Linked DNA regions of Homo sapiens: regions 1 and 3 are each linked to region 2. The links come from fine-mapping of genetic effects on gene expression. A gene starts in region 2. Each other region holds a variant in brackets. All regions are shown on one strand. Distances are between the middles of the regions. Region 1 overlaps JHY (junctional cadherin complex regulator). Region 2 holds the start of JHY (junctional cadherin complex regulator). Region 3 overlaps CRTAM (cytotoxic and regulatory T cell molecule).

Region 1 (2,853 bases), 57 kb before region 2:
TCCAAGACAGTGAGAACATATACAGTATAATGATGGTAATAGACTTTAACATGTTTATAGGAAAAGATTTATGAGTCCATAATGATACTAGAGAGAGAGGGAGAGAGAGAGAGAGAGATAAAGAAGGAAGGAAGGAAGGAAGGAAGGAGAAAAAGGAAGAGGAAAAGGTCTTATTTCAACAGCCATGTAATAAATGTATAGGTATTGATAGAATTACAAAATCACCATTTTGCAACCCCAGTGTAATGGATGATTTAGGTAAGCACTGTCAGTGGATGCTAAAACCACTGTACAAAAAGCTGTTGAAAACTAGGATAATTACACTGTCTCGAATATTAATAATTACTTATAAAGGGAAAATGTTCCTTTACAATGGGGAGATCTGGTAGTCGCTACCTTAATCAAAAGGTTTAACTTAGCATCACCAATAATATGATAGCCTGATAGTATGTATCCCCTGGTATAATGTAATAAAAAGTACACCAAATCACCCAAGTAGTATTCTTGCCTGAAATGGTCAACCTAAATATAACTATCCAAAAACAATAAATTTTTTCTAAAAAGGCAATGTTATAGAAAACAATGAAAAGTGAGCATTGGATAATTTGTTCTAGATTTTTTTTTCTTTTTTTGAGACAGAACCTCACTCTGTTGCCCAGGCTGGAGTGCAGTGGCAGGATCTCAGCTCACTGCAACCTCTGCCTCCCAGGCTGAAGAGATTCTCCTGCCTCAGCCTCCCGAGTAGCTGGGACTACAGGAGCCTGCCACCACACCCAGCAAATTTTTGTATTTTTAGTAGAGTGGGAGTTTCACCATGTTGGCCAGGCTGGTCTCGAACTCCTGACCTCAAGTGATCCACCGCCTTGGCCTCCCAAAGTGCTGGGATTACAGGTGTGAGCCACCATGCCCAGTCTGTTCTAGATTTTTTTTTTTTTAATTAAAGGGACAAAAAGTAAATGAAATGTATGAACACTGAATACTGGATCAGGAATTTAAAAAAAAAAAAGCTGTAAAAGGCTTTTTGGAGACAAGTAATACAATTTAAAAATGTACTGATACTACATGATATTGTGTACAATAACGTTAATATTCTTAGCTGTGATAATGGTGTGATTGTTGTATAAGACAATGTCCTTATTCTTAGGGGCTGAATGTTGAAATATTTAGAGATAAAATATTGTGATTCTGAACTTGCTTTCAAATGATTCAGTAAATAGATAGAAAATGTTGCAAAATTTTAGCACTGATGAATCTAGATGAAGGACTACAGGTGTTTATTGTAGATATTTTCCCCCAAGTTTTTACTAGGTGTGAACAATTTCAAAATGAAAAGGTGGTAGAAAAAAC[G/A]TGGCAGAATAAGCATGCAATTTAACTCTCAAATGCAAATCAAAATTATATATAAAGAGATTTTTAAAAGACATCAACCCACGAAGATAAAGAGAACAAAATGGGGGGAAAAGAGCAAATATTTCGGAAGCAGAGAACAGATGGTTGAATGGTAACTATCTTAGCAGACTCAAAAAAGTGGAATCTAAGTTAGCAGCAGGGAAAGCAGAGAAGCCACAGTTTACACCATAGAATCCTGTAAGGCTCATGAGCTGTAAGTGGGAGTGGCGGTGGTGAAAGTCTATGTGAGAGTTACTTAAAAAAGATTTGGTTGAAAGTCTGTTTAAGAAGCAGTCAGGGTTGGGTGCGGTGGCTCACGCCTGTAATCCCAGCACTTTGGGAGGCCGAGGTGGGTGGATCACGGGGTCAGGAGATCGAGACCATCCTGGCCAACATGGTGAAACCCTGTCTCTACCAAAAATCCAAAAACTAGCCAGGCGTGGTGATGGGCGTCTGTAGTCCCAGCTGCTCAGGAGGCTGAGGCAGGAGAATCGCTTGAACCCGGTAGGCAGAGGTTGCAGTGAGCTGAGATCGTGCCACTGCACTCCAGCCTGGCAACAGAGTGAGACTCCGTCTCCGGAAAAAAAAAAAAAAAAAGAAGAAGCAGGCGGATCTCCAGATCATCTTCTCCATTTTGTGCACCTAGGCAACTGTCCCTTCCCTCTCTCCGCAGCTCGCTGGAGGTTTTCATTCTGAAGAAGCCAACAAGTCTTCTGCCTGTGAAGCACCAAGCACAGATAATAAATCTGACCACCAAGAGAAAAGACCTAAAACCTACAGGAAGGGCTTCCTATCACATGGCACCCAAAGATCATTCTATAGGCACTCAAAGTCAACAAGCACTGTCACTCAGAGCTTCCAATAAGCTTTCTAGTCCCTCATACTTGATCATGAGAAGATGATCAAGAATTGCTAGACATCTGACACAAGCCCTAAGGTGGAAGGCAGCAAAATAGGAGAAGAGAAACAAACATCACTGACAAAGACCTAGAGGAAAGAGAAGCAAAGCAGGGAATTAAAAACACTTAAAAATTCAGTCACAAGGGCCCTTACACCCTATTTTGCCTTGTTGAAAATCTAAGAAGACGTTGAGAAAAAAGGATGTTGTATCCATGAACAAAAACATGAGGCTATAAAACGAGGAGCATTCAGAAACCAATAACAGAAACAACAACAAAAAAATCCTGTCGGAAATTAACAAACATGATAGCAGTAGAAAGGCTGGAAGCTAGGACTGAGAAACCCTCCCAGACAGTAGAACAAAATTAGAAAGAAATGGAGAAAGAAAGAGAAAACAAAATCATAATAACGGTCCTGGAAAAACGCATCTGAATCACAGGAGTTTCTAGAAAGAGCAAACAGAAAATGGTTGAAAGGAACTACCCATAAAGATGACTCAAGAAATTTTCCCAGAACTGAAGGTCATATGTTTTCAGGTTTAAAGGCCCCAGCTCAATCTATGAAAAC
Region 2 (2,853 bases):
TATTATTTTGTCTCTTATTTTTAAAATACATATTGCATTCTGCCTTATTATTTTAATTGTTGCTTTTTTAGGATGTGCCAAGAAAGCAGCAAATCTATCAAATACTAACACATTTTAAGTAAAAGAGATTGTTTAACACCGGTTTTACTGGAGGAGCTAAGGTCACTGAATTTGAGATCCTGAAGAGCAAGCTTAAGCGTTATAGTGCAACTTAGAATTACTCTTAAAATAATTCAGTCCCTTGAACTTCTCTTCTTAAATGAAATAGGCTAAGCTTTCTTGGAATGAATAAAAAATAAAACAGTAACCACAGAAGATAATTTTGCTGATGTTAGCAGATTCCTGAAGTTTGCTAAAGTATGCAAAGAGCAAAGCCAAACGCCACAAAAGCTGGGTTTTCTGTGGAGGCCTGATCTTACCAAAACATGGGGTGGAAGAAGGAACAGCTGACAGCTTGAATAAGTTAGAAAGTGGGCGTTTAAATTTCATGAATGTGGCTCCCTCCTCCCGTCCAGTGAAAAAAAAAAAAGGTTGTGCCGCTGAAATTTCTGACCAAGAGAGGTGACTAGTCTCCTGAATAAACAAGACAGCGATAGATCCGATGGCACCTAGGGACTAAGAAGCGGCCAGCTCCCCAGGGATCCCTGCAGTGGGTCTAGTCCACTAGCATGGGACAATCGAACTTTCTCCTGGAGGGGAAAAGGAACCCTGCTTGGGCTCACCAAGATGAATCGTAAAGAAAAAGGAACGAACCCTGGTTTGAAACAGGCCGGAAGCTGCCCAGGGGAGGCGTTCGGTTTTCTACCTTTGCTTGTTCCTGAGGAACAAGGCCTGTCACAAGGGGCGTTTGGAGGTCCAGGAAGTGACAAGTCGGCGGGCCTGGTGCCCGGGACCGGTCCTAATTGACCGGGAACAGGGCTGCTCTGGGTGCCCGGGCGCCGAAGCCTCGCATGGCGGCCCCCCAGCCCCTTGTCGCGGCCTCGCCCCCTTGTCGCTCCCCACTCCGTCCCGAAGGCTCCCGCGCCGGCTCCTCCCCAGCTTGCTTGGGTGGTTTCCTGCCGTCCCCATCCCCAGTAAGCCCTTCCCGTTTCCCTCCCCGGGCGCGCCGCCCACCCCAGATCCGGGAGGCCACCGCCCGTCACCTGCCCGGCGCTCCTCCGCGGCCGCGACCCGGACGGGCCCCGCATCCTCCCGCGCCGCCGCCGCCGCCGCCCGGGCCCCCGCCCGCCCCGGCGCTGCCCTGGAGACCGCAGACAACACAGACGCCGGCGCCACATGGGCGGGGCAGGACCCGACCTAGGATCCCGCGTCCCGAACCGCACCCCCGGCCCTGGCACGGAGGCTGCAAACGGCCGTAATAACGACATCGGGGCAGAGCCGGAGGAGCCCGAACGCCCCGGGAGAGGCTGCCTCGCCGCCCGGACTTCCCAGCGCCGGAGGGCAGAGGCCACCCGGGGGAGGAGATCTTTGCCACAAATAAAACTACTAAAATACGCGAGGAACTGCTACAAATCAAGAAGAAAAGGAACCCAATTAAATAATGGGTAAATGGAAAGGTATTTCACAAACACACGAGAAATCTAAATGGCCAATAAATATCTGTTTATTGAAATGATGCTTTAATTCATTAATAATCAGAAGAAGGCCAATTAAAACCACAGCGGATAATACCACACTCACCATAAGTTGAGTCGAAAAGTCCAAAGTTGAAACGTCTGGCAGCGTCAGGTGCTAGGGAGGACGTAGTGCAAAGAACCGTCACCTTCTGCGGGCGGACGTGAGAACCGATGCAACCAACCATTTTGGAAAATGGTTTGACATTAGCCAGGATATGTATGCCTTGGGATCCAGCAATTTCACTTTTAGGTATTTACCCTAAGAAGTGCGTGCTCCTGTGCATGCAAACTGGAAATAACTGAACTATCCATCAAAAGAATGGTTAATTAGATTATGCTATTGCCTATACTGGCATACTACATAGCACTGTAAATGAATGAAATACAACTATGTGTAACAATATGGAGGCATACTAAAAACACAATTTTGAACAACAACAAAAACCCAGAAAAAGTACATACTGTATGATTTTTGTATATAAAAAACAGGCTAAATTACACTCTACAGTGATTGTGGCTCCATACTTAGTGGAGGAAACTATGAAAAAAAGCAAAAAAGCAATTTTATGGGAAACACTACCCACTTAGTGATTCCCATCAAGTTAGGATTGTGGTCGGTTCTGGCAGGTAGGGAGAAGAATGTTTTTGAGACTGTATTTCCTGACCTTAATGATGGTTATATAGATGTTCATCTTGTAAAAATTCATTAAGCTGTACATTTATGTATGGGTAGAATATTTCACTATCAAAAAAGGTTTCAAAAAAGAATAAAGAAAGGAAGCATTAGGAATTATCTTCACATTAAAACAACAAGTAGATTTGAATAACTACCTTCAAAGATTGGTTTGAGGCCAGGTGCAGTGGCTCACCCTGTAATCCCAGCATTTTGGGAAACCGAGCTGGAGGATTGCTTGAGCCCAAGAGTTCAAGACCAGCCTGGGGAAAATGGCAAAACCTTGTCTCTACGAAAATTTTTAACAATTAGTTGAGCGTAGTGGCGCGTGCCTATAGTCCGAGCTACTTGGAAGGCTGAGGTGGGAGGATCACCTGAGCCCAGGAGGTTGAGGCTGAAGTCAGCCAATATTGTGCCACTGCACTCCAGCCTGGGTGAGAGTGAGACCTTGTCAAAAAAAAAAAAAAAAAAAAAAGAGAATTCTTCGGCCAGGCACAGTGGCTCATGCCTGTAATCCCAGCACTTTCGGAGGCCTAGGCGAGTGGATCACCTGAGGTCAGGAGT
Region 3 (2,500 bases), 37 kb after region 2:
GTGAGGGTTCAAGCTTTCTGAGAACATTCTGGCTCTTGATTGTCTTATCTGTCAATAGACCCCTAGGCTTTGTACCATCTGAACCTGTTGCACCGAGGAGCTGTTTATAATCATCTCTGTGTCCCTAACCTGGGTGGCATATGATGCAATGGTAACACACACGCACACGAGCCAAATTGACTGGGTTGGAATCCTGGCTCCTCCACTACTAACAGCACGAACTTAGGCAATTTAAGTGTGTGAATTTCCTTACCATAAAAACAGGAAAAACAATAGTATTCATCTCATAGAGTCATTGAGGCAATTAAAAAATATATGTAAAGAACCTAGTGTAGTACTTAGTCCATAGTAAGCATGACATTCTTCTTTTACTTGGTATATAGTGCTTAATAATTATTTGAAAAGCTGAACTGACTCTTGCTTTACAAAGAAAAGTGGAAAGAGTCAGTGTCAAAAGACAAAGCCTTGTAGCTCTGCAGCTCTTCACTAGGGATCTCCTTCCCCAGTGTTACAGGACTATTTATTATTAAACATTCTAAGGTCCTAGTAGACATTAAGGAAGAAGCAGTTAGGTCCTAGTAGACATTAAGGAAGAAGCAGTTCCAGTCGCAGTAAATCTAAATTGGAACAGTTCAGAAGGATTAAAGGTTTTGAGGAGCAAATGGTGATAATGAGTTCTTTTCATTTTGGACCTTAGATTCCAACCAAAGGTGTAGTTAATCATACCACTCAGTTCATGGTACACAATCATTATTTGATGAAAAGACAGAGAGAGACAGACAGACAGACAGACAGAGGTGTTAGAACTCTGTGAAATAATAAAATTTATGGCTATGTGCAGTGGCTCACTCCTGTATTCCAGTACTTTGGGAGGCCGAAGTGAGCAGATCACCTGAGGTCAGGAGTTCGAGACCAGCCTGACCAACATGGTCTCGAACAAAATTAGCCTGGCGTGGTGGTGGGCACCTGTAATCCCAGCTACTCAGGAGGCTGGGGCAGGAGAATCATTGAACCCGGGAGGAGGAGGTTGCAGTGAGCTGAGTTCATGCTGTTGCACTCCAGCCTGGGCAATAGAGCAAGACTCCATCTCAAAAATAAATTAAATTAAATAATAATATGTTTTCCCACTTCTCTCTTCTCTTCATCACATAAATTGTTTGCTATTGAAATGCTAACTTATTTGCATATGTGTTTCTCAATGTCATCCCCAAGTCACATCTACTTGCTTTTAGATCCTGCATACTTGGCGTGCCCTACATTGCTGTGAATGGAGTGGGTACCCGGTATCTCCACTTGGACACTAGTTTCCATCTCATTTATTTACACAAGGAATTCCCTTCTGTGTTGCTCCATCTCTCAAAAGATGATTTGGTACAAAAATAATTCTACCATCATTGTTTTTTTTCTCTTTA[G/A]CTGTATCATTCTCTGGCTGGATGTGGTGGCTCACACCTGTAATCCTAGCACCTTGGGAGGCCAAGGTGGGAGGATCACTTGAGGCCAGGAGTTTGAGACCAGCCTGGGAAACATAATAAGACTTTGTCTTTACAAAAAATTAAGAAAAAAAACTGTCATTCTCATCAGCACACAAATATATACTATTCATCCCATATTAAAATGCATAAACAAAATGATGTCAGATTTCCTTCCAGCTACTATCCTATACTACCCTATTCTACCCTATGTCCCTCCTTTTTATTTATTTATTTTTTTGAGACAGATTCTCATTCTGTCACCCAGGCTGCAGTGCAGTGGCATGATCTCAGCTCACTGCAACCTCCACCTCCCAGTTGCAAGCAATTCTCCTACCTCAGCCTCCCGAGTACCTGAGATTACAGGCACCCACCAGCACATCTGACTAATTTTTGTATTTTTAGTACAGAGACGGAGTTTTACCATGTTGTCCTGGTCTTGAACTCCTGACCTAAAGTGATCCACCCACCTCTGCCTCCCAAAGTGCTGGGATTACAGGCATGAGCCACCGTGCCCTGCCTTCCCTCTCTTTCACTGACACATTTTTCTAAAGAACTATCTATATTTGTTTATCCCACTCTTTGTTTTCTGACCAGGTTTTCAACTCCACTACCTCGTTGAAATCTCTCTTTGCCAAGGTTGCCAAAGACCTTCACATTGCTCAAACCAATGCTCCATTCTCAGACCATATCTTATTCAACCTATGGTGTTCCTTCGCCATATATGATCACTCTCTGCCCCTTAAATCAGTGTCTTTACCTGGTTCCCTAGATGTCAGTCTCTTTTTGACTCCCTTCCTAACTCACTGGCAGCTGCTGCTCCTCAGCTCTATTTCCGGGTTCTTCTCATCAATCTGCCCTTCACACAACGGAGGTCAGATCCTGGATAGACTCTCTATACTCACTCCATAGGTCATCTCATCTGGCCTCATCACCTTTCTGATGATCAGTTAGAAGTCTGAAAGCCTAACAAGTACAACACAAACTCTTGATTCTCTTCCCCCAAATGTGTTATTTTAGATTTCACCAAC

What was found. PIP is the estimated chance that this variant, and not a neighbour inherited with it, causes the effect.
Region 1: its variant is fine-mapped to the expression of JHY in lung (GTEx, PIP 0.97).
Region 3: its variant is fine-mapped to the expression of JHY in monocytes (BLUEPRINT, PIP 0.91).

What each region holds. Positions count from the first base shown.
Region 1 is chr11:122,938,117-122,940,969 of GRCh38, reverse strand. The region is part of intron 5 of JHY (junctional cadherin complex regulator); the gene reads right to left. Among named protein-coding and RNA genes, the nearest start is that of BSX, 42 kb to the left of the region's middle. The variant G/A (reference allele first, on the strand shown) is at 1,348.
Region 2 is chr11:122,881,262-122,884,114 of GRCh38, reverse strand. JHY (junctional cadherin complex regulator) reads right to left here and starts at 1,356. Exons shown (of 9, transcript NM_024806.4): 1 at 1,143-1,356. RefSeq lists a silencer at 878-1,237.
Region 3 is chr11:122,844,917-122,847,416 of GRCh38, reverse strand. All of the region lies in intron 1 of CRTAM (cytotoxic and regulatory T cell molecule), which reads right to left. Among named protein-coding and RNA genes, the nearest start is that of CRTAM, 7.7 kb to the right of the region's middle. The variant G/A (reference allele first, on the strand shown) is at 1,413.